Linked DNA regions of Homo sapiens: region 1 is linked to region 2. The links come from fine-mapping of genetic effects on gene expression. A gene starts in region 2. The other region holds a variant in brackets. All regions are shown on one strand. Distances are from middle to middle.

Evidence for each region.
Region 1: its variant is fine-mapped to the expression of MYO1A in whole blood (TOPMed, PIP above 0.99).

Annotation. Positions count from the first base shown.
Region 1 is chr12:57,003,640-57,016,188 of GRCh38, reverse strand. ZBTB39 (zinc finger and BTB domain containing 39) reads left to right here and starts at 9,643. Exons shown (of 2, transcript NM_014830.3): 1 at 9,643-9,784; 2 at 11,228-12,549. The coding sequence starts at 11,272. TAC3 (tachykinin precursor 3) reads left to right here. Exons shown (of 7, transcript NM_013251.4): 2 at 387-505; 3 at 2,518-2,611; 4 at 2,801-2,830; 5 at 3,314-3,367; 6 at 3,737-3,811; 7 at 5,901-6,189. The coding sequence starts at 392. The coding sequence ends at 3,810. RefSeq lists silencers at 9,445-9,804, 9,825-9,974. The variant C/T (reference allele first, on the strand shown) is at 6,633.
Region 2 is chr12:57,043,126-57,055,674 of GRCh38, reverse strand. It overlaps MYO1A (myosin IA), which reads left to right and starts at 5,546. Exons shown (of 28, transcript NM_005379.4): 1 at 5,546-5,788; 2 at 7,332-7,465; 3 at 7,571-7,686; 4 at 7,954-8,048; 5 at 8,268-8,372; 6 at 8,568-8,614; 7 at 8,749-8,812; 8 at 9,025-9,123; 9 at 11,466-11,569; 10 at 11,672-11,819; 11 at 12,317-12,435; 12 at 12,517-12,549. The coding sequence starts at 7,352. NEMP1 (nuclear envelope integral membrane protein 1) reads left to right here. Exons shown (of 9, transcript NM_001130963.2): 9 at 1-32. RefSeq lists an enhancer at 7,625-8,824.

The DNA.
Region 1 (12,549 bases), 39 kb after region 2:
GTTTTTGCCTAAGTCTTGGGATTATCTAGTACTGGAAAATAGCATCCAGGATCCCTCCTCCAGCTGACTGAGGAAACAGACCAGTCCATGTCCTACAAATCTATCATCTTTCTTGGGAGCTAGAGTCCTCCTGGCACCACTATAGCATTGCACATCTCCTGGGGAGATATCTGATGGGGTAGCAGGGAAACTAAGCCCAAGGGCTGTACCCCCTTCTCAGAAATACTTTCCACCCTCTCTCCAGACCAGGGCTTGGACAGTGGAGTTGGGGGCTGGGGAAGCAGGGTCAAGCCAAGCTGCTGGTAATGAATGTCTCTTGTGTCTTCACCCATGCTGTATCTTCCTCTTCTCTCCTTTACCTGAGTCCTGTCCCTTTGCTCTCCCAGGCACCATGAGGATCATGCTGCTATTCACAGCCATCCTGGCCTTCAGCCTAGCTCAGAGCTTTGGGGCTGTCTGTAAGGAGCCACAGGAGGAGGTGGTTCCTGGCGGGGGCCGCAGCAAGGTAAGTCTCCCCTGGCAGAGTACTGGGGACATCACGGGAACTTGGGACTCTGCCTGTCTGGACAGCTGTAGTGAGGAAACTGGGGTGGGGGGGTTGTCCGTCAGAGGGCATTTTGCCTCCCTTTGGATTTCTTTGTTTCTCTGGTCCTTTCATGTTCCCACTGTCTCCAGGTGTGTTTGTGTCTCTGTATCTCTGCATGTCTTTGACACCTTGTACATAAAAGGTGCCCTACAAATATGTTGTTTGGTGGGTTGATTGATGGGAGACTTGGTGATTGGATGGTACTGTGAGGGGTGAGCTAGGGTGGTCTAAGGCTCTCTATAGTCTACCTCAGGTCCCTTTGCAAGGGACAGATCTCTTCTATTTCCTGGATGGTATGAAACAGTCAGAATTTCTTTCCCAAATGGTTATTTGTGTGCTATTTTACCTATCAGTTATGTGTATTGTTTTATTTTCAAAATGCAAATAAATTCCCTTATCTTTTGCTCATCCACCCCCAGTAACCTCAGGTGCTTCTAAGATCCCAACCCCTTCCTTCTTCTCTTTTCTCCCTTGCCCGCCTCTATCCTCTGCTTAGTCAGGATAGGAAAACAACAACAGCAAAAAAACCAGATTGAGCCTCGATTTCCACAGTTCCTTTACGAAAAAGAATAGGAATTGTCAGGGTAGGGGTACAGGGGGAGGATAGGGAGGAAGTCTTTTCAAGGTTTTGAAATGACAGCAATTACATCGGTACAAATGCTTTTAAGATGATTGCGGGTGGGACTTATTACAAATTCAATGTGTGAAGTTTAACTGCCTCTTCAGCTCAAATCTGTTCAGCATCTCATTATAGGAGGTGGGCAGAGTATTCAACAATTTGGGAAAAGTGGCTGCCTGAACACCACATGCTGGGCCAAGGGAGTTATCACCAGGGCAGCCTTGCAGGTGGCAGCAGTTGTGCCATATCCAAAAGGCCAGAACCGTTAAAAAAAAAAACACCCAGGGGAGTGCCAAGTATGGGCTGGACACCGTTTGGAGCCACAAAGTTCCAGCCCAGGATAGTTAGAGTATCTGAGTTCTTCTGAGACAAACTTGTTTCAAGACCTTGGCCAATGAGATGTCCCCTCTGCCCCTCTTGGTCAATGAATGAGAGGGATTGCCATCCTACCCCTTCTCCTTGAGAGTCTGTGAGGATGAGGGAAATTGGGGCAGGAAGAGGGTAGTACATAGGTGTGCCTAGGCAACTGGGTTGGTATGTGTGGGGGTGTGTTCTGTGTAAATGCACTTCTGTGTGTGCACAACAGCCGAAGGATGCCTGGGTTCTGGAAAGAGAGGCGCTGCTGAGACTTGAGATTTGAGATGAAAATCTCCAGCCATGATCATTGTTATTGTCTCTCTGCAGCTGCAATTAACTGGCTGTGTGGTGTGTGCCCACCACCCTGCTGTACGCAAGTTGCTAAAAAAAAAAAAAAAATCACAGGGACAATCAAGAGCCCGTGCTGGGCAACAGCTCTAGAACTTGGGATTCAGTTGTGGAGAGAAGAAGACGTGCCTTCTGAGCATGTTGCCTTCCTGGAATTCTAGACCTAGGGCCAAAAGGGAGAGGGAGAGAAAACTAGAGGCGGAAAGCCATGGAGAATAGAGAAAGAGGTGGTGGAAAACAGGGAGAGAAACATCCATGGACATCGTGCAGAGTGGGGGAATCACAGGTGCAGATGTGTGCCTCCAATCTCACCATGCATGTGAATCACCTGGGGGGCTGCTTAAAATGCAGATTCTGTCTCAGGAGGTCTGGGGTAGGAACAAGAGTCTGCATTTCTAACAGGCTCTGTGTAGTGCTGGTGTTGCTGTTGGTCCACAGGTCACTCCTGGAGCACCTACTTCTCGTCCAGTGTGAACCAGAGGAAACTCTGAAAGAAATAGGGTGTCGGATTCAGGATGGGCTCAGGAAGAGGCTGTTTCTTGTGGGAAAAGGATGAGTGGATCCGGGTGGGAGCCTCCTGCCTCACCCCTCTTTGTTTCTTCCCTAGAGGGATCCAGATCTCTACCAGCTGCTCCAGAGACTCTTCAAAAGCCACTCATCTCTGGAGGGATTGCTCAAAGCCCTGAGCCAGGCTAGCACAGGTAGGAGGCGGCCCTAGGGGAGAGGGGAATGAGGGGCAGGATTCTGAAGATAAGAGGCCTGGGAGATCCTTTCAGATGGGAGAGAGATGGGGGATAGCTTAGTGAATCGGTGAGGGTTGTGATCTGAACCCCGCTCTCATCACTTTCCAACTTCACTCCCCATTTAGACATCTGTTCTTGGTTTCACAGATCCTAAGGAATCAACATCTCCCGAGAAACGTAAGTACCCTCTTCTCCCTCCCTATCTCTTGCCACTTGCCCAGAGCTCTGTGGGGCATTGGGCCCAGGGGCCATTTTGTCCAGCCCCTTCTCACCTGGTACAAACAATATGCCAGCTCCCACTGCTCAGCCAACCTTTCCTGAAAGGGAGAGGCCATCCAGAACTAGGAGGAAGCTGGTGTGAGGGGCATGGTGGGCTCTCCCTCTGCTGGCTGGTCCTTGGAAAACAAGGGGATCTCTTCGTGGCCCTGAAAATTCCAAATCAGGCACCTGCTAGAGCAGAAAATTCTTGAAATGTGGAGGAAGGAAAGGTGAGCAGAGAGAGTGGGTTTAGGGGAGGCACTTGCTAACTGTGAGGAGTCATGCTTTGACAAGAAAAAGGAACAGAGACCAGAAACCCAGTCTCAGAAGTGTTGACCCATGTCTGGGGAGATGCTTCACTTTCTCATCATCACTGCTGACAATGTTGGCCCTTTTCTGCAGGTGACATGCATGACTTCTTTGTGGGACTTATGGGCAAGAGGAGCGTCCAGCCAGGTAGGAGTGTGTGGAGGTACAGTGGAAGGGCTTAGGGTACTGGCAGAGTATGACAGAAGTCACGTGCCTCATATTTGTCACCAGAGGGAAAGACAGGACCTTTCTTACCTTCAGTGAGGGTTCCTCGGCCCCTTCATCCCAATCAGCTTGGATCCACAGGAAAGTCTTCCCTGGGAACAGAGGAGCAGAGACCTTTATAAGGTAGTCCTGTTGCAGCTGGGAGGAAGGATAGGGAGACTCTGCTTCCACCCCAGTCTCCCAACTCTGTCTTTGAACACTGCCCGTCATAGCCAGCCCTTTGCTGTTGGATCAGGGTGTAGTTCACATTCAGAAAGATCCCTCTTACTTACACTGTTCGCTTTACCCTAGACTCTCCTACGGATGTGAATCAAGAGAACGTCCCCAGCTTTGGCATCCTCAAGTATCCCCCGAGAGCAGAATAGGGTAAGGATTGTTCATTAGAGAGGGGAGAGGGGACTGGGGAGGGGGCTGTGGGGGTTGCCAGCTGTGCATTTCCTCCCATGCTACAGGTATTAAAGCTCATAGATTTGCCCTGAAATACACTGCCAATGCCCAGCACACTGTCGGCCAAACACAAAGACACTTAGAGGCACGTGTGTTTGTACACATCCCCCGTCTTTCATCTCTTTCCTCTGGATCATGGACGGCAGCTGACTATTGAGCAGGAGTGAGTGTTGGGAGATGAGGAGAGAGGGGCTTCCCCGATGGGCAATTTCTGTTGTTTGGACTTCATTCTTTTGTAATCTATGCAAAAAGATGGAGAAATTATTATCTGATAATTACAAATACCACAACCAATTCACAGGCAAGCATTTGCCTCCCAGGCAGGCTGAGCCTTTCAAATCACTCAGAATCCTGGGTTACGGGGCCCAGAAGGTAGTCATACACAAGGATGATTCAGGAAGAAATGCAAGGAACTCTGAAATCTAATGGGGATTAGCAGGAAACCATATCTGAATCTCTCTTTAGCATAATGAATAAGAACAATGGCCTGAATGTGAATCCTGGATCTGCCACTCTATCTGTATCTTTTTGGCCAAGGTACATATCCTCCTGTGCTTCAGTTTCCTCATCTGAAAAATGAAAGTGATAATAGTATCTCACAGGGTTGTGGTTTTGAGGATTGAGTATAGGTAAAGTGTTCAGAACAGTGCCGGGTGCACAGTGCTGTGTGCCAATTTTATGATAATTGTCCCAGTTTGGGAGGTATGGGGGATGTCCTAATGTTTCCCCTGACTGGCTCTGTCTGGACCCCAGGCCTGAGTGGGCTGACAAATTCCTCACTTGGTATGCGAGTGTAAGAGTCCCCCAGGGAAGTGTCTAGTCAAAACACGAACCTTCCGCCTTGACACTGTCTTCCCACACACAGCAAGAGCAGCTCCACCAATGGCTTTCTTTTCACTAGCTTCCAAAGAATTGGGGTGGAGGGAGTGAAAAGGAGAGGGAGAGAGATTGGGAAGGCTCGTAATCATGGAGAGCCTCCTGCTTTTCTCTCTGTGTCCCTGTTACCCATACTCACTGGTCTCAAGGTGGCACGCCCAAGACCCAAGGAGCTGGTGCTTGATGATGCTGCCTGTGCATGAATTCCTGGGACCAGAGACTGAGTCTGGCCCCCCATTTAGTGTTGGGTGAGAGGGCACAAAGAGCTATAATAACTGTAACTTGCTGATTACATGGTAGTTACTGTATCATTTTGCTCTCATTAGATGGTTATTTCAGTCCTGCCGACGGCCAGATAATTATACGAGCAGCTATATCTGGATGACATACTCTGCTCCAGCGTTATGCACTGGCCATAAAGATAATTACAGTGCAATTTTGCTATAGTATTTTATACAAATGGCAAAAACAAGTGCATTGTGGAAATCTACTTTTAATGCTTGTTTGTGCATCCAGGCTCTTTCAGAGGGACCCATAATTGCAGCTTTCATAATCTTACCATTGAGGGAGCATTCCCAACCTGTTAGGTGTCAGGCAGAATAGGACATAAGGTTTCTGGGAGCTGGCATTTAAAGATTAGATGAGATGGATCAACACAGATCATTGTGTCATCTGATTTCATTCATGTGAAACTGTAAGTAATCCCTGGGCCTGTGCTTCCTCTGGGAGGTTTCTGGGAAGAGGAGGAACTGGATAAGGCAGGGGGAGCATTCATAGTAGGGCACCTTGGGCAGGGCTGTGTGTGTGTCTGGCTCATGGTGGTGCTAGGATGGCATGAACTTGGTTCCTACATCTTTGGTCCACATGGGCCCCACTGGCCATGCACACAGGTGTGTAGAGTAATGTAAATATGGCAGCTGGGAAGGTGCAAGTACCTGCGGCTAGGAGAGTTCCATCCTCAGGCCCAAAGCCTGGAGGGCAGGCTGAGGGTCAAGACTTGTTCTTTCCTCTCTCACAGACGCCTCTCCCCTTCTCTCCTGCTGCCACAGCAGGTTTTCAGTGGGACTTTTTTACAGGATATAAGATGTGATTTCAGTGTTTTTTTTTGTTTTGTTTTGTTTTTTGTCCTCAGTACTCCACTTCCGGACTCCTGGACTGCATTAGGAAGACCTCTTTCCCTGTCCCAATCCCCAGGTGCGCACGCTCCTGTTACCCTTTCTCTTCCCTGTTCTTGTAACATTCTTGTGCTTTGACTCCTTCTCCATCTTTTCTACCTGACCCTGGTGTGGAAACTGCATAGTGAATATCCCCAACCCCAATGGGCATTGACTGTAGAATACCCTAGAGTTCCTGTAGTGTCCTACATTAAAAATATAATGTCTCTCTCTATTCCTCAACAATAAAGGATTTTTGCATATGAATGATGTGGTGTGTGTGTTTACTTGTTTGGTTGGTGGGTTTTTCTGTTCCTTGACTCCTCCAGCTACATGGTAAATACACACATACTTATGATACACACACTTCATATTTAAATGTAAATAACTTTACATATCTTTTTGTATATATCTATTTCCTGAACAGTGCCTTACACAGTGCTTTGCACGATGAGTATCAGATTTATTTAGTGATTAAAATAAATACACGAATTTGGAAGATGGTTTCTAACACACAAAGATTTTTACAGACCAGTTTTAGATAAAGAAAAAACAGGCCGGGCCCGGTGGCTCACGCCTGTAATCCCAGCACTTTGGGAGGCCGAGGCGGGTGGATCACGAGGTCAGGAGGTCGAGACCAGCCTGACCAACATGGTGAAACCCCTTCTCTACTAAAAATACAAAAATTAGCCAGGCATGGTGGCGCATGC[C/T]TGTAATTCCAGCTACTTGGGAGGCTGAGGCAGGAGAATCGTTTGAACCCAGGAGGCAGGGGTTGCAGTGAGCCGAGATCACGCCACTGCACTCCAGCCTGGGCAACAAGAGCAAAAAACTCCGTCTCAAAACAAAACAAACAAACAAAAAAAACAATAAAAAAAGAAAAAGAAAAAGAAAAAAAATATTCAGAATGACTTGTATTACTAGGATGGGTCTGGGAGATATTCATTCCTGAATCTGACCCTACTTAATTAGAGAAGGAGGTGGGGATCAAGGCTGTCCGGAGACCCAGCCACAGAGGAGGACAAATCTATGACCCTATACAATTTTTTTGTCTCCAAATGCTGAGCCTGGGTTCTGTGACAGATCCTGGGGATGAAATGATGACTCATACACAGAGTTTACAGTTTAGCAGGGCTGTGGACAAGCAAACAGAACTTGATCCAGCTAGGATGGGATGTGGACAGGGAAGTTACTACCGAGGCCAAGAAAGAGAGGAGCAGATATCTTCACCGTTAACTGGCTGCCTTAGTTATTATAAAGGGAAAACATTTATCTCCCACTCCTCTCTAAAGTGCCTGTTACCAGCTCCTGCAGCTCTGACTTAACAGTCCCCAGAATGTGTAAGGCACTTACATGTGGTATGCATGGGTATGGATGTCTTTTACTAATCTATGATGTCAACTATCACCCGCCATCCTAAGGGGGGTTCTGTACCCTAATGGAACAGCCAGTGAAATCCTCAGGCTCCTTATCTTAGCGTGGTACAGGGGCCTTTGTTATGCCCCTGAATTGCACTGATAAAACATCAACACATAGATTTCCCAAGGCAGTGTAAGGACAGGGCCACAGAGCCAGAGGCCACTTCCTGCAGTCCTTTCATTCTAGTGAAAATTCTATCTTCCTACAGCCTGACTTGGGGCCACTTTGGAATGACAGCTGTATAGTGGGGGGCGGGGAAAGGAGGGAATACTCACCCTAGTATTACTTATGTCAGCTTTATAGCCAGAGGTCAAAGAATGCCCCCACCCCAGAGCCTAGACCCTTTTTCCAGTGAGTCATCTCTTTGACTTTTCAAAATTATCTATCTATAGGGCTTAAAACTGGGGACACTTTTGCAGAGTCTAGGGGCTTTCTCTGGGTCATGAAAGCTACAAGAGTTGGTTCTGCTCAGACTTGGTGGGAGTTAGGCTTATAGGCTGAGATGAGACAATTGCTTTGCAAGTAGGAACATTAAGTGCAGAAAGATTGCTCTCTAGTGGGACTGACAAAAATTGCAGTACTGGGGACTCCAGAAAAAAATGAAGACAAATGTTAAGTTAGATTCCTGTGTTTGTACTTGAAGAATGTGTGAAGGGATCCTGACCCTCCCTTTCCTGTTGTAAAACAGTTGATGCCTAAAGAGATCTGGTCCACAAGACCTTGACTAAATTCCTGGCCCTTTCTTCTCCATTTAACTTTGTATATGTTTGTTATTGTGACTATATGGTGATTTACTTTAAAAAGACTTCAGTATAAGTGGTATATACTTTCACCTGCGTCTTTTGGATGATTTGTTTTCATGTGAAGTTTATTGGGGTCAACCCTCCAGAGATGGCTGGGGCAGTTGGTTAGAAAGACTGTATAGGCCCAGGCCCTTGCAAGCCCAGCAGCCCTCTGTCTCCAGAGTCATGCTGGAGGTCTGGACCTGCTGGCTGTGTGATATTCCACTTTAGGGAGACTCAGTCACCTTGCACAACTGTGAGAGCTGGGCCTGCCACTGAAACATTGTGTCAACCTCTAAGTGACCCTTTCACTAGATGGTAAAGTGAGATGCCTCATCCCCAAACTATAAGAACAGTTCTATGGCTGTTTTTGTATCTCCTGGCTAACAAATGTTACATGTTTGGCAGCATTTGGTATAGTGCTTGCTTTCAGTATAGTCTGCCACCAGTTAATGAGGTTGTGGAAAGGAGGACACACAATCTCCCAAATTCATCAAGAGAATGGACAATTGCTGAATGGCCAAACTGGCTTAGATCTGTTGGCAACATTCAGTGTGTCCCTTCCTTTCCACTTATCCATCAAGGAATTACTGAATCCTACCATGCGCCTGTCCTGGGAGTTTGTCCTTGGCTGCAAGCTATTTTCAGGCAGTGACTGGGATGGGATGGGAGAGAGGATGAAACTGAAGGGTCTTGGAGCCTAAGAGCTTCCTCTGTACTGAGGGAGGGAGGGCGACATGACGAAGACTTCTAATGTCTTTGGTGGTGGTGGGTGGGGCAGGCAGTGTAGGTGGTTTTCGTTTGATGACAATTCTTGGGCAGAAGCATTTGAAAAGATGATTTGGGAGAAGGGTGGGGAGGAAGAGTGATCGAGTTCTACACAGAGTTGGGGAGGGCAGGCTTCAGGAAGCAGGCCTGGGGTGCCAAAGTACAGTGAGATCCGGTGACTTTCTTCATTTGGCCACCTAGATGGAAGGAGGGACAGCAGTGGATTATCAGAAGGGTCCAGTAGTAGCGGTCTAGCCCTCAAGTGCTCCTTCATTCATTCAAGCAGGCTTAATGTATTAAGCACTTATTGTGCCAGGAAGTGTGGTAAGGGTCAGTGTGGACCTGCGGCCGTGTGCAAAGCCACAGATCCCTGCCTTCAGGAAGCCCACAGCCTAGTGGAGGAGATATATAGTAATCAAACAATCTTACAACATTTTGTAAAATGCCCATAGTAGATGTTCTGAGGAGAAGCTTTTGGAACTGTGAGCGTAGAACAGGGGAGGTGAAGAGAGTTTGGATAGGGTTTTTCACTCTTCAGGCACCAAGTCCCGCGCACAGTGGATGGGCGCTTAGAAAAAGCCAGCCTGGGGACTTGGAAGCCCCTGCACCCCTCGCGCAGGTCCTGGACCCGGCCCCGCCGTGGGGGGGCGCTGCCTCCTCCCGGGCGGCGGGGGGCGCTGCGGCCGGGCGGCGGGGGGCGCTGCCTCCTCCGGGACGGCGGGGGGCGCTGCGGGCCGGGCGGCGGGGGCGGCCCGGGCCGTCGCGGCGAGCCGCGCGGCGGATGGAGAGTCTGGCCGCGGCCGGCGGCGCCGCCTCCTCGTCGGGCCGGGCACGGCGGGCCGGGGCCTTTGTGTGAAGCGGCGGCGGCGATGGTGCTCGGGGCGCCGCAGAGCCGGGTAAGCGCGGCCAGGCCGAGGGCTGCCCCTGGCCGAAGCCCGACCTTCGGCCCGGCATTTATCTCGCTCTTGCTGGGGTCCCTCTTGCCCGCTCCCTTCGGCCGGACCCATCCTCCCCGCCCGCGCGCCGACCCCGGCCGGCCCCGCCGCCCCTCGCTTGGCCCCTTATTCAGCCCCATGCCCCCAACAGGCTCACCCGGGTGAGCCCCGCGCTGTTTGTGGAGGGACTGAGGCGCTCGTTGCCTCCAGAGGGAGCGCCCCAGCCGATGCAGCGCCCTTCCCTCCCAGATGCGACTCCGGAGGGGAGACCGCGGCGCCCGGGGATTGTTGGGGTGTCCTTGGAAGTTCCCAGCTTCCCCCTCTCCCACCCTCTCCTCTGGCTGCCCAGTGCTCCGACCCGCCCATCGTTCAGGGGTGGCCACCAGGGCCCGGGAGATGCTTGGCCGGTACCCCACAATACTTAGACGCTTCCTGGGCCCCAGAAAAAGTTGGGAGTTGTTAGAATCTGGAGAGATGGAGAAAGGGGCTGTGTTGGGCAGAGTTGTGAGACTGAACAGGGATGCAAGTAGCTCTTCTTCCTTAGTCGTGCAGGAGTCAGAAAGGGCAGAAAGTGGTAGTGAACAAGCCTCTAGGAGTCTTACCTGTATAATTAGAAGTCTTTCTTGCGGCATCAAGTAAATCTGTTAGTGCAGGGACAACAAAATATAAACCCCGAAAAGGGTGGCGAAAAAGAATACAACATATTAAAGTAATATTAAATACTACCACAGTTGTGTTCTACTTTTCTTACTGTGCATTCTGAGTGTTTTAACTTCACAGAATACAGGGACTGTGATAAAGCAATATCTGGAGGGGCTCTGGGTTATCGAAAGGCCAGAGAGCGGGTATGTAGTATAGGCAGAGAGAGATGGGGATTCAAGAACGTGAGATTTATTTGGAGATTATTGAGAGGTTGAAGACACAGCAATGACAAAGCTAAAAAACGGAACCACCTTATATGTTCCTCAGTAGCTAGTGGAGCTTTGATAGTTGTGTTCAAGCATGTGCATGGTATTTGGCATCATGAGGGAAAAGAATATGCTCAATGAATTAGGAAAGCTTGTATTTGGGAGGAAATTAATAGGAGAAAAATTTGATCCAGTGGCTCTGGTAATGAAGTATAAGATTGTGTCCAAGGGAATGCCTCTGGTTCGTCTCTAGGCACCAGCTTAAAACCAAGCTATCAGATTGTCATCAGTCGTTTTGGTTTTTGTCATAACTCTTTGAGTATATACAGGGGGAGATGTCATTGCCTTGTCATAATGGAGGAACTCTCCATGCCAGTTTACTCCTGATCCCTACCTGGGGCTTGGAAGCATTCAGAGTGATGGTATTTTCTCCTGCATAGCCCCTCTTTTGCACGGATGTGTTTGGCCATCCATCTTTTTCTCTTGCTATCCACAGATTAACTGTGCTGATAAGGAGGTAATTTCATAGGAGCTGCTAAGATGGGCATGAGGATCAAACTGCAAAGCACCAACCACCCCAACAACCTGCTGAAGGAACTCAACAAGTGCCGGCTCTCAGAGACCATGTGCGACGTCACCATTGTGGTGGGGAGCCGCTCCTTCCCGGCCCACAAGGCTGTGCTGGCCTGTGCAGCTGGCTACTTCCAGAACCTCTTCCTGAATACTGGGCTTGATGCTGCCAGGACCTATGTGGTGGACTTCATCACCCCTGCCAACTTTGAGAAGGTTCTGAGCTTTGTCTACACTTCAGAACTCTTCACAGACCTGATCAATGTTGGGGTCATCTACGAGGTAGCTGAGCGTCTGGGTATGGAGGACCTCCTCCAGGCCTGTCACTCTACCTTTCCTGATCTGGAGAGCACTGCCAGGGCCAAGCCCCTGACCAGCACCAGTGAGAGCCACTCTGGTACCCTGAGTTGTCCTTCGGCAGAACCTGCCCATCCCCTTGGAGAACTCCGAGGTGGTGGGGACTACCTTGGTGCTGATAGAAACTATGTGTTGCCCAGTGATGCTGGAGGGAGCTATAAAGAGGAAGAGAAGAATGTTGCCAGTGACGCTAACCATAGCCTGCATCTGCCGCAACCGCCCCCACCACCGCCAAAGACAGAAGACCATGACACCCCTGCTCCCTTCACGTCCATTCCTAGCATGATGACCCAGCCACTCCTAGGCACTGTCAGCACGGGCATCCAGACCAGCACGAGCTCCTGCCAGCCATACAAAGTTCAAAGCAATGGAGACTTCAGTAAAAACAGCTTCCTCACCCCTGACAATGCAGTAGACATTACCACTGGGACCAACTCCTGTCTGAGCAATAGTGAGCACTCCAAAGATCCTGGCTTTGGGCAGATGGATGAGCTCCAGCTCGAGGACCTGGGGGATGATGACTTGCAGTTTGAAGACCCTGCTGAGGATATAGGCACAACTGAGGAGGTGATTGAGCTGAGTGATGACAGTGAGGATGAGTTGGCTTTTGGAGAGAATGACAATCGGGAGAATAAGGCCATGCCCTGCCAGGTGTGCAAGAAAGTTCTAGAGCCCAACATTCAACTGATCCGGCAGCATGCTCGGGACCATGTGGACCTGCTGACGGGCAACTGCAAGGTCTGCGAGACCCACTTCCAGGACCGAAACTCCCGGGTAACTCATGTCCTGTCCCACATTGGTATTTTCCTTTTCTCCTGCGACATGTGTGAAACTAAGTTCTTTACCCAGTGGCAGCTGACCCTTCACCGACGGGATGGAATATTTGAGAAC
Region 2 (12,549 bases):
TAATTCCAATTTTAATAAAAGTTTTATAGATATATTGTGGTCTTTCTTAATGAACATAATATTTTCTTGTTTGGATTTCTTGTTTTCAGGTAATCAGCAATTTACTCCTCAGTTTCATCTTTCTAATGAGATGGTTTTGCATGCCACTGATTTCCCTTTTTTTCTTAGCCACCCCTTCCTGTCCCGAGTCTGTACTGGTCTACTTTCATCCTTGGACTGGATGATTTCCCAGGATGCAAAATCTCTAAGGGGTATTCTTGCAGGAGCAGCAGGTTGTACTACCATGCTGTCTCATAGAAAAGCAAAATACAGGTTATTCTTGGCCCAAGGAACTACTCTGATTATATTTTAGTTCTTTTTTTTTTTTTATGGCATAAAGTATCTCTTTTGTTTGTCCATTGGGATGGGGAGAAGACCTATGGCTCCAGCTATGGGATCCCTACCAAGAGCTCTGTATAGGGTGGAAGAGAGAGTAGGGCTGTAGTGAGCCTTATGTGTATTGAATAAAAACTTAAATTATGTCTAGGCCCAGCTTCTACCATAGGAGTCTGGTACCTTTCATTTTATGTATTGGCTACCTTCTTTGCTCTGGGAATCCTTTGTAATATTCATATTAACTCTGTACCTATGTTTTTTCATCTCATTAATTAATTATTATTATTATTATTTGAGACAGTCTCTTCCTGTTGCCCAGGCTGGAGTGCAGTGGCATGATCTCGGCTCACTGCAATCTCTGCTTCCCGGGTTCAAGTGATTCTCCTGCCTCAGCCTCCCGAGTAGCTGGATTACAGGCACCTGCCACCACACCCTGATAATTTTTGTAGTTTTAGTAGAGATGGGGTTTCACCACGTTGGCCAGGCTGGTCTTGAACTCCTGATCTCAAATGATCTGCCCGCCTTGGCCTCCCAAAGTGCTGGGATTACAGGCATGAGCCACTGCACCCTGCCTATTTATTATCATTATTATTTGTTTTGTTTTGTTTTTTGAGATGGAGTTTCACTCTGTCACCCAGGCTGGAGTGCAGAGGCGGGATCTTGGCTCACTGTAACCTCCGCCTCCTGGGTTAAAGCAATTCTCCCTGCCTCAGTCTCCTTAGTAGCTGGGATTACAGGCCCCCACCACCATGCCCGGCTTTTTGTATTTTTTAAGTAGAGATGGGGTTTCACCATGTTGGCCATGCTGGTCTTGAACTCCTGACCTCAGGTGATCTGCCCACCTCAGCCTCCCAAAGTTCATCTCAGTTATTTGGACTACATGGAAATCCATTGTCTATTTTTTTTAAGACAGAAAGTTGGCAAAGTAGGAAGAAAACAGGATGTAGAACATAAGTAAATTTATGTTAATGTACACTAATGACATCTTTTCTCCTCTTCCTTCCATAACTACCACTAGGTAAATAAGAGACATAGGTGATCGTTAATGGTTGAACTAATAAAAACTTAAAGCATAATTGCTAGATGTACATCATAGAGTTATAGTGAGGATAAAAAAACATGGTAAGTGATGAGCATTTTTTCATGTGTAAGTTTTGGCTGCATAAATGTCTTCTTTTGAGAAGTGTCTGTTCATATCTTTCGCCCACTCTTTGATGGGGTTGTTTGTTTTTTTCTTGTTAATTTGTTGGAGTTCATTGTAGATTCTGGATATTAGCCCTTTGTCAGATGAGTAGATTGCAAGAATTTTCTCCCATTCTGTAGGTTGCCTGTTCACTCGGATGGTAGTTTCTTTTGCTGTGCAGAAGCTCTTTAGTTTTATTCGATCCCATTTGTCAATTTTGGCTTTTGTTGCCATTGCTTTTGGTGTTTTAGACATGAAGTCCTTGCCCATGCCTATGTCCTGAATGGTATTGCCTAGGTTTTATTCTAGGGTTTTTATGGTTTTAGGTCTAACATTTAAGTCTTTAATCCCTCCTGGCCACCAGAGAAATACAAATCAAAACCACAATGAGATACCATCTCACACCAGTTAGAATGGCGATCATTAACAAGTCAGGAAACAGCAGGTGCTGGAGAGGATGTGGAGAAATAGGAACACTTTTACACCGTTGATGGGACTGTAAACTAGTTCAACCATTGTGGAAGTCAGTGTGGCGATTCCTCAGGGATCTAGAACTAGAAATACCATTTGACCCAGCAATCCCATTACTGGGTATATACCCAAAGGATTATAAATCATGCTGCTATAAAGACACATGCACATGTATGTTTATTGCGGCACTATACACAATAGCAAAGACTTGGAATCAACCCAAATGTCCAACAATGATAGACTGGATTAAGAAAATGTGACACATATACACCATGGAATACTATGCAGCCATAAAAAATGATGAGTTTATGTCCTTTGTAGGGACATGGATGAAGCTGGAAACCATCATTCTCAGCGAACGATCGCAAGGACAAAAAACCAAACACTGCATGTTCTCACTGATAGGTGGGAATTGAACAATGAGAACACATGGACACAGGAAGGGGAACATCACACATTGGGGCCTGTTGTGGGATGTGGGGAGGGGGGAGGGATAGCATTTGGAGATATACCTAATGTTAAATGATGAGTTACTGGGTGCACCACACCAACATGGCACATGTATACATATGTAACCTGCATGTTGTGCACATGTACCCTAGAATTTAAAGTATAATTTAAAAAAAAACATGGTAAGTTGGGTAAAGCAGTTCTCCAACTTTAAAGTGCATGGGAATCACCTGGGGATCTTGTTAAAATGCAGATTCTGATTCACTAAATCTTCAGTGGTGCCCAAGAATCTGCATTTATTTTTTTTTTTAAGAGACAGGATCTTGCTCTGTTGCCCAGGCTGGAGTGGAGTGCAGTGGCACACTCATAGCTCAGTGCAGCCTGGAACTCTTGGGTTCAAGCAGACCTCCCAATTCAGCCTTCCAAAGATTCTGGATTTCTGGTAAGCTCCCAGTTGATCAGATGGTGCTGGTCTGTGGACCTCATTTTGAATAGCAATGATGTAAAGCACTTAGCTTGTTGCCTGGCACATCTTAGTCCAGTCTAAGTATGATAAATGTTATTAGTACCAGATAGTTTATGAGAGCCGAGAAGACCCTCTACCACCAAATGTCTTCCTCACCATATCTGAAAATAGCTGCCTTTTTATTGTGTAACATCTTTTTAAAAGTTAGTACCTGTGGGAAGATTAATGAGTGAATTGGCTTAATCAGATTGCTGCCTTCCCAATTTGTCAGAAATCAGCACCAAATGATTTGGAATTTTTTTTTTTTTTTTTTGAGACGGAGTTTTGCTCTTGTTGTCCAGGCTGGAGTACAATGGCGTGATCTCGGCTCACTGCAACCTCCACCACCCGGGTTCAAGCGATTCTCCTGCCTTAGTCTCCTGAGTAGCTGGGATTACAGGCACCCGCCACCATGCCCGGGCTAATCTTTTTTGTATTTTTAGTAGAGACGGGGTTTCACCATGTTGGCCAGGCTGGTTTCGAGCTCTTGGCCTGAAGTGATCGGCCCGGCTCAGCCTCTCAAAGTGTTAGGATTACAGGCGTGAGCCACTGCACCCAGCCTAGAATTTTTTTTTTTTTTTTGCCAGTTTTATTGAAGTACGATTTACATAACAATATAATTTGCCAGTTTTAAGTGTACAAATTTGCTGAGTTTTGACAAATGGAGACAGTTGTATAACCACTACCACAATCAGGATATAGACCATTTCTGTAACCCCAAAAAGTTCCCTCTTGCCCCTTCCATGGTCTAGAAATGTTAATGGGGGAAAAAGGAAGGTGATTTAGGAGTCAAAGTAGAGGAAGACTAATACGCTCTGGTTGCTTCAGTTTTGCCTAGAAAGCAGGAGATTAGAAAATCCCAGCTGACTTGGATGTGTATTTCATATCTTGTTAATTTAGGCTGACCCACTGGCTCCAGTTTGCCTGGGACTTTCCTAGTTTTAACACTCAAATTCCCATGTCCAGAGAACCCCACTGTGTCCCACAGGCGGATCAGTACAGTTGGTTGCCCTAGCTGTGATGTTCATGTCATTGTTCTTACACCTGAGAGTGCCATCTCATTTTAGAGTCACTTTTCTCGTGAGTAAGCACATAGTAGGCACTCAGTTGACTGAATGGGTGGACATGCAGGTAAACCCCAGATGGCTGCAGATTCCTGGCCTAGAGAACATGAGACTTGGGTTTTGGTGCCAGCTCTGCCAGGTTTGCAGTGGTGTGACCCTGGAAAAGTGGTTTTCTCACTCTAGATCTGTTTCCTCCACTGGTAAATAGGTGATATTTGTCACTTCTGCCTCTAGGACATGGATACTGCTCCACCTACACATAGCATTATGTTTTGATGTCACTTCCACTCAGCTTTCTCTCTTTTCCTTGCCCCCCTCCACCTTCAAATATATGTAGTAGATCAATAAATTATGTAAAGGCAGGTTGATAATAGAACTGCTGATGTGCCAGGCTTACGCAGAGTGCTTCTGTGAGAGCCATAGAGTTTGGACCTTGCACCAAGCAGCCATAGCTGAGAGTTGGAGAATCAAGTCTCTCTTCAGTTAAGTGTCTATAATTACCTAATTTGTTCTTTCTGCATGCCTGGGAGAGAGGATGGTAGGCAGAGGGGGCTTGCTGTTTTTAGGAATTTTCCTGGCTGGATGAAGGGGTACTTCTTATCTATCAGAGGGAGCTATTACATTAGCTCAGGGTCTTACTCAGTATCCTAGTGCTGACGAATTAAAATTAGAAACTTCAGAACTTGGGCTGCAACTTTTGGCAAACTTAGGGAGCTGCATTCTGTTCCTGGTTCTGCCATGCACTAGCATGGAACTGTGGGCACATTGTGTAACCTCTCTGAGTCTGGTGTTTGTTCCTAGTTTTCCATTTTAATGGAGTATCTGTATTGCCTTCCTCGGGGTGGTGCTATTCAGTGAGGCAATGCAAGGGGGAGTTCAATGAAACTGGGACATCTATACACATGTGAGGTATTATTACTAATCACTTTAATCTTTGGGTCTCTATGATAGGGTCTGATTCATGGGGGAAGGGAAGTGGAGAAGAATTTGGGGATTTTGTCTGCTTAGCTCTCCAAGTAATCTCATTAACATCCCCTGACTCCCGATAAGATAGGAAGAGTAGGTATGAGGGAGGTACTGTTTTTTTGCTAGGAAGACACTCTTTGTAAAGACGTGTCTCGCCATGTTGCCTAGGCTGGTCTCGAACTCCTGGGCTCAAGTGATCCTCCCGCCTTGGCCTCCCAAAGTGCTGGGAGTATAGGCATGAGCAACCGCACTTGGCCCTACCTGTCCTTGACAAAATTCCTGACTTCTCTTTGGGAAATATTTTCCTTGGCTATAAATTCCATTCTTCCAGCTTTCATTTCCAAATTTGGGAGACAATGGAGCAAGAACCCTCCTTTAGTTAAGCCTCTCAGCTAACGCCAGCCAGATACCCTTTCCTACCTAGAGGGAGCTTGAGTGTCTCCCTCTGGGGCTTCAGGCCTGTGAAGGGTTAAGTGAGCCACACCCTCAGCAGGAACAGTCTGGACTTTGTGCTGATCAGCCATCTCCGGCCTCTCCTGGTTTGACTGGCACAGGGAGCCTGGGCTGGAAGAGGCAGCAAAAGGGAAAATCAGAAGAGTGGACACTGGCAAGAGGAGGGCAGCCTTTTTCCCAGCTTCCTTGCACCATGGACAGCTCCCATTAAGCCACCTCTCCATCCTGGGGCCAGGACTCTTATGCCCCATTCCTGTCAAATTGAGATTTCATCCACCATTCTCCAAGGACAGTGAAGTTATACCCTAGTTCCAGTGTTGGGTGAGTCCTGCCTTGACCTGTCACTGCTTCTCTTTAACACCTTGGGGCGCCCCATCTGGGGCCTCTTGCCTTTTTCCCTTCCCCACCCTCAACCAGTCACATTCCCACTCCCTTCAAATCCAAATCCAAAGAAGATGACTGCTCCCAACCCACCTTCTGCTTCTCACCCTTCCCTGCCAAGTTAGTTAAAAGACTTAGCTTTTTGTAAAATCTAGAAAATACAAAAATAGTATCTACTTCATGGGGATATTGTAAGCACTAAATGAATTAGTGTATGTACAGTGCTTAGAGCCCTGCCCAGTTCGTGGTAAACGCTGCATGATTCCTAGAGACTGCTATTATTGATATTCTTATTGCTTCCTCAGTTGTGTCCTTCTGGTAAGTGACAAGTGCTCTCTTTTCCTAGAGCTTGGGGAAAGCCAAGTGAAGGGAGAAGGAAGCCTGTGCCCCTTCTTGCCCCACTTCCGTTCCTCCTTCCTCCGCTCCTCCACCCGGGTTCAGAGATGCAATAGCATAGGAGGATGTGTCTCTTTCATTCCTGTTCAGGAGTGGCCTTGACCATTGTACTAATAATCCTGTCCTGTGCCTGGCCACTCTGCCTACTCAGTCTCACAGGAAAGACTGAGGAGGGCCAGGTTTCCTCCTTAGGGAACACCTGCCATGTGCCTACTGCATGGGGGCCAAGCCCCACCACCCTCCCTGTAGTTCCAACTGTGCTCCTCCTTGCCCACTCCCGCAAGAAGCTAGGTGTGTCCCTCTGGGGCAAAGTCCATGCCAGAAGTTTACAGGAGTGGGTGTAAAAGCTAGAGATGGAAAAATAGAGACAGACATGTAGCACATCCAGAGGTCCTGACAACTGCCTGTTTGTTGGGGAAGCAAACCCCACTTTCATTTTCTTTGGGAAATTCCAATCTCTTATGGAGGAATCCTGCCTCTATCCTCTATAATTCTGCCTTGTCAAGTTCCCATTTTAAAAATGAAGCTCACTGTAGCAATGACAGGGAAGGAGAGACCTTTGGAAGAACTTCTGAAATGGTTATGGGTAGGTTGGGTGTCTTTAATAGGGGCTGTGAGAGGTAAGGTGTTGAGAAGAAGCACTGGGGGTAGATGGGGAGTCTGGACCCTGGCCAGGGCCCATTGTAGGAGAGAGAGGGCTTTCTGTACCTGGCGGCAGCACAAGTCTTTGCTTACACTTTCCTCCTCAGCCCTCTCTCCTTCAGTCACAACTCTGCTCCCCCAGTTGTAGCCCACTGGGTGCCTGCCTTCCCCTGGTGGTCAGAGGAAGGTGTTCCTGTTCCACCCCTGCCCCACCCCCACCAACTGTAACCCAGGCAGCAGAGGATCTCCCCCACCTCCTGCTGAGAGTTTCAGCCTCCCTATTAGCTTGGGCTGGTCCAGAGGCCTCTCCTAGGTTGGGGGCTCTCTTTAGGGCCAGGGTAGGAAGAGAGGAAGGCTCTTTTGGTCCTTCTGCCATCCTCCCCTCAAACAGTTACTGGCCCCTAAAGCTGAGTGGACATCAGCAAACTGTGCCTCTTATTCCCAGGATCAGTGGCCCCTCTGGACATGCCTCTCCTGGAAGGTTCTGTGGGGGTGGAGGATCTTGTCCTCCTGGAACCCTTGGTGGAGGAGTCACTGCTCAAGAATCTTCAGCTTCGCTATGAAAACAAGGAGATTTATGTGAGTGTCATATGGGTGCCTCTGGCTGTGGATATGTGGCTGGAGAGGTCACAGGCTCCCACCTCACCCTCAAGCTCATTCCCTTCACCTTCTTCCTGGCTCCAGACCTACATTGGGAATGTGGTGATCTCAGTGAATCCCTATCAACAGCTTCCCATCTATGGGCCAGAGTTCATTGCCAAATATCAAGACTATACTTTCTATGAGCTGAAGCCCCATATGTGAGTAGGGGGACCAAGGGAAGGCTGACAGGGCCCCAGCTTCTTGACACTGAGTCATCCTAATTTCCTTTGTCCCTTCCCCTGAAGGGGCTTCTCCAGCTGCCCCTTCCTTCCCTGGCCTTCTGGAGGCCCCTTCCAAGGCCTGTCACATCTTGCCCAGTCTGCTCCAAGTAGAGAGAGTGGATGAACCTGCGTGCTGGAGATTGAGTGAAAGATGGTGTCTTGAACTGGTTTCACAATAGTCATTGCCCACTTCCTCCCCACAAGCTACGCATTGGCAAATGTGGCGTACCAGTCACTGAGGGACAGGGACCGAGACCAGTGTATCCTCATCACAGGCGAGAGTGGATCAGGGAAGACTGGTGAGGCCCCTGGCTGGGGGAACACATGGAGTCACCTCTGGAACTGCTTCCTTGTCTCTTTGCAAGCCAGACCTAGACCTGACCCTCCACCCCACAGAACTTCCTTTCCACTTTTTCTGACTCCAAGGGGTGGTGAGGCACTGGGGTGAAGCAAGTTAAGGAGGTGGGGGGATGGGCTAGTCCTGGGTGGGGACCCATGAGAGCGTTTTGCCTGCACAGAGGCCAGCAAGCTGGTGATGTCTTATGTGGCTGCCGTCTGTGGGAAAGGAGAGCAGGTGAACTCTGTGAAGGAGCAGCTGCTACAGTCTAACCCAGTGCTGGAGGGTGAGAATTCTGCTCTCTGCCCTCTCCACCCTCCATCTAACCCCCAGAATCACTGAGCCCTAGACCCTCTTCCCCAGTGCTGCAAAATCACCTCTCTTGTTCGACCCAGAAAAATCTGAGATTGTCATGAGGACTGGAAGCCCTTCCTCCTTTCCCTTCTCTAGAGTTTCACTTCTCCCCTCCTCATCTCTGTAGCTTTTGGCAATGCCAAGACCATTCGCAACAACAATTCCTCCCGATTTGTGAGTAAATGTCTCCCCACCTGGGAAGAGAGGATGTGGGGGCTTAAGAGGGAGGAATGTGGCACAGACCCCTTCCAGGCAGGGTGGTGAGAAGAGGAAGAAGCTAAGTCTCTCTCTCTGGTCTCTCTCTGAAGGGAAAATACATGGATATTGAATTTGACTTCAAGGGATCCCCCCTCGGTGGTGTCATCACAAACTGTACGTGTCTCCCCAATTCCACTCACCTGTCTTCCACCTGCCTCCCATGGCCCTTTCTGCTAATCTGTTCCTGTAGAAAGGCAGAATGTTAGACGTCAAGGAGACTTCCCAACCACTAGGAATGCCGGCGATGGGGGCATTCTCCAGTAGGGCTGGAGAAGCTACGGCATCTCCCAGGCCCTCAGGATATTATTTTTCTAATTCTCTGCCAGATCTGCTTGAGAAATCCCGATTAGTGAAGCAGCTCAAAGGAGAAAGGAACTTCCACATCTTCTATCAGCTGCTGGCTGGAGCAGATGAACAGCTGCTGAGTATGTGCCTGCATGGGGAAAGTGTCCTCATGAGTGACACATGGCAAAGTCCCCAACCTCCATTCAGTCCCAGAACCCCTGTTCCCTCTGGGCCCCTACAGCCCTCTTCCCTTGAGCCTCCCAGATTTTCCTTGCTGCATTTCCCATTCTCAGCCTCACCCACTCATTGTTGGGAACAAATTCCTTTACCCCTGTGTTCTCTTCCTTTTCTGGGGTTTTATTGCCAGGGATATGCCTTCTTGCCTCTTCACTGTTCTCGTTCCTCTTTCCTGCCTGGGTTCTGCTTTCCCTGAGCTGGCTTCAAATATAAAACACTTATATCCATCTACTTTCCTTCCTACCTTCAACTTAAGGGGATTTAATTAAAGCAGGGAAGCAGGCAGAATGTTGTAAGTGTTCAGGAACTTTCAGTGAACTCTAGTTGAAGCTGTCCTGGGTCTACATCTGCCTTACCTAGGACCCTGTTCCTGATTTTCTTTTCATTCATTCATTCACTCATTCATTTATTCATTCATTCAACATCTCTTGAACACCTATGATCAAATATTATGCTAGCCTCTAGGGATACAGAGTTGAGTAAGACATGACCCTGTCCTCGAAGAACTTATAGTCTTCTAGGGATAAGAGGTGTGTGAGCAGATCCATTGTAATATTGTGTGATCGGGGCCATCAGGCCTGTGCAGCTGGCTATAAGAGCAGAAGACCTAGAGCCCCTTGGCTTGGCCTGGGGAAGGGTCCATCACAGCCTGGATGCTGGACTGGCCTGAAGTGGCTCTGGGTGGGCATCACTGGAGTGTCTGGTGGACTTTAAGCCCTACTGGAGTTTGCCTCCCAATCTCCTCTCTGGCTGTGAGCACCGTGGGTGTCTGGCCCCTAAGAATGTCTCTTTGGTTTCTGGTGATTCTATGATAGACCTGTGCTATCTCCTTTTCCACTCTTGGAGATCTCTGTGATCTTCAGGAACCCCTGCAGATCTCATGCTCTTTCCTGGCTTAATAGTTTTGGTTATGTTCAACTTGTCTGCATCATGGGCATTAGTGTCTTGTTCTGGTTGGTCTGTCATCTATTGGTTTAAATCAACTCTAGATGAGGTCTCCCAGGTATCATCATCCCCAGACATTCTGACTCATTCTCCCTCCAGATACCCTCCTTAGCAGGCCCTTGTTTCAAACTTTGTGTGCTGGGGGAGCTGCCATTAGACTATAGTTTGAGGGATACTCCCTGATTCTCAGATCATTTGCATACCAGATAATTGACATCCCTCAAACTCCATGATTAACCGAATCCCTCCCATCCTAGGGAAACAGCTTTGATCATTCACTTGATTCATTTATTAAAAAGAGAAAATTTCCTGCATGCCAGAAAGGCACACAGAATATGGAGATGAGAAACACAGTCCCAACCCACAAGTTGCTCATTTATGGGAGAGACAGAAAAAAACAAAACCTAGCCCATATGATATGGGCTGGGATATAGATTCACCAGTGGGGAATGCAAGACAGCCATTTGGCTCAGGCCCTCAGCATCAGAGAAAACTTTTCAGAAGAGGTGTCAGGGTCAGGGAACATGCTACCTGCCACTTTATTGGTGTTTGGTGTTCAAACAATGAATGAGCAACCCACGCCAAGAGTTGAGGCTGGGGGCAGGCAGGAGATATGCGCTTACCCTTCTCCCCTTACCTTCACCGTCCAGAGGCACCTGCGTAGGATGGAAGGGTTGCTTGTTTATTTTTATTGTTTAGAACCCTGAGGGTAGGGAGAAGAGTAAAATGAGGGTTTTGTTTCATAAAAGTTGGGGGAAAACCCAATCAATATGAGCATCAAAACCCTAAACACTACTTAAAAGTATACTTAAAAATTTAGTCTGTTAGGCCGAGTGACTCATGCCTGTAATCCCAGCACTTTGAGAGGCCGAGGCGGGTGGATTGCTTGAGTGCAGGAGTCAAGACCAGCCTGGCCAACATAGAGAAACCCCATCTCTACTAAAAATACCAAAATTAGCCAGGCGTGGTGGCATGCACCCATAGTCCCAGCTACACAGGAGGCTGAGGCATGAGAATCACTTGAACCTGGGAGGTGGTGCTTGCAGTGAGCTGAGATCGCACCACTGCCCTCCAGCCTGTGTGACAGAGTGAGACCCTGTCTCAACAACAACAAAAATTAGTCTATCATCACAGGAATTAATGATCCCAAAACAAAGGAGGCAGGGGAAGAACCCAAAACAAAAATGACTCCTTTGGATAAGTGAATGAATCCATTAGGGCAAGGGCTGTGAGGTGTCAAGGCTGGAGGGCTCCAGAGAGCCTGGGTACTAACCATCTTCCCCAACACTGGCCCTCCCAGAGGCCCTGAAGCTTGAGCGGGATACAACTGGCTATGCCTATCTGAATCATGAAGTATCCAGAGTGGATGGCATGGACGACGCCTCCAGCTTCAGGGCTGTACAGGTGGGTGCCCAGGGTGAGGCAGGCTTGGGCCCTTAGGTCATCCTCTATTCGCATTGGACTGGCACCAACAGTTCAGCTTTTGATTTCTGCTTTCTGCCTAAGAGTGCAATGGCAGTGATTGGGTTCTCGGAGGAGGAGATTCGACAAGTGCTAGAGGTGACATCCATGGTGCTAAAGCTGGGGAACGTGTTGGTGGCTGATGAGTTCCAGGCCAGTGGGATACCAGCAAGTGGCATCCGTGATGGGAGAGGTCTGCATCCCAGCCTGCTGGAGCTCCTACCCAGACCCTGAATTTCCTACTACAAGTCGTGTCCTTCTACCATCTCTAGCATAATTGATCTCACCCTGATGCAGTCCCACTCAGCCCACTCCTGAGTTCTCCCCTAAACAGACTCACTGAGAACTCCCGATGAAGCATATTGGAATGAGCTTTTGAAATTTGATATATCTAGGTCTGGAAATTCTCTGAGTCTGAGTTGATTCTTCTGCAGAATGGGGATAATCACACCTAATTCAGGAGATTCTCATATTAAAGTAGATGATACATGCAAAATGCCCAGATCCCCTTTCTTCTGTCCCCCAACTCCCTGAGATTCCTCCAGGGCCATGTTCTGGGTTGGCTGCAATGACTTCTCCAGTGAGACCCCAGGACACCAGTGTCTCAGGCAGTTTCACTTATCAGATTGCACTCCCTCCCCTGAGAGAAAGCTGCCTCTAAGGACATGCTGTACTTTCTCATTATCCCAGGTGTTCGGGAGATTGGGGAGATGGTGGGCTTGAATTCAGAAGAAGTAGAGAGAGCTTTGTGCTCGAGGACCATGGAAACAGCCAAGGAAAAGGTGGTCACTGCACTGAATGTTATGCAGGTAAGGAGCTCACTGGAGTGGAGGGGGCTGTTTCGACCCTGTTCTGTGATGCCACCCTAATCAGCTGTGCCTCACCCACAGGCTCAGTATGCTCGGGACGCCCTGGCTAAGAAC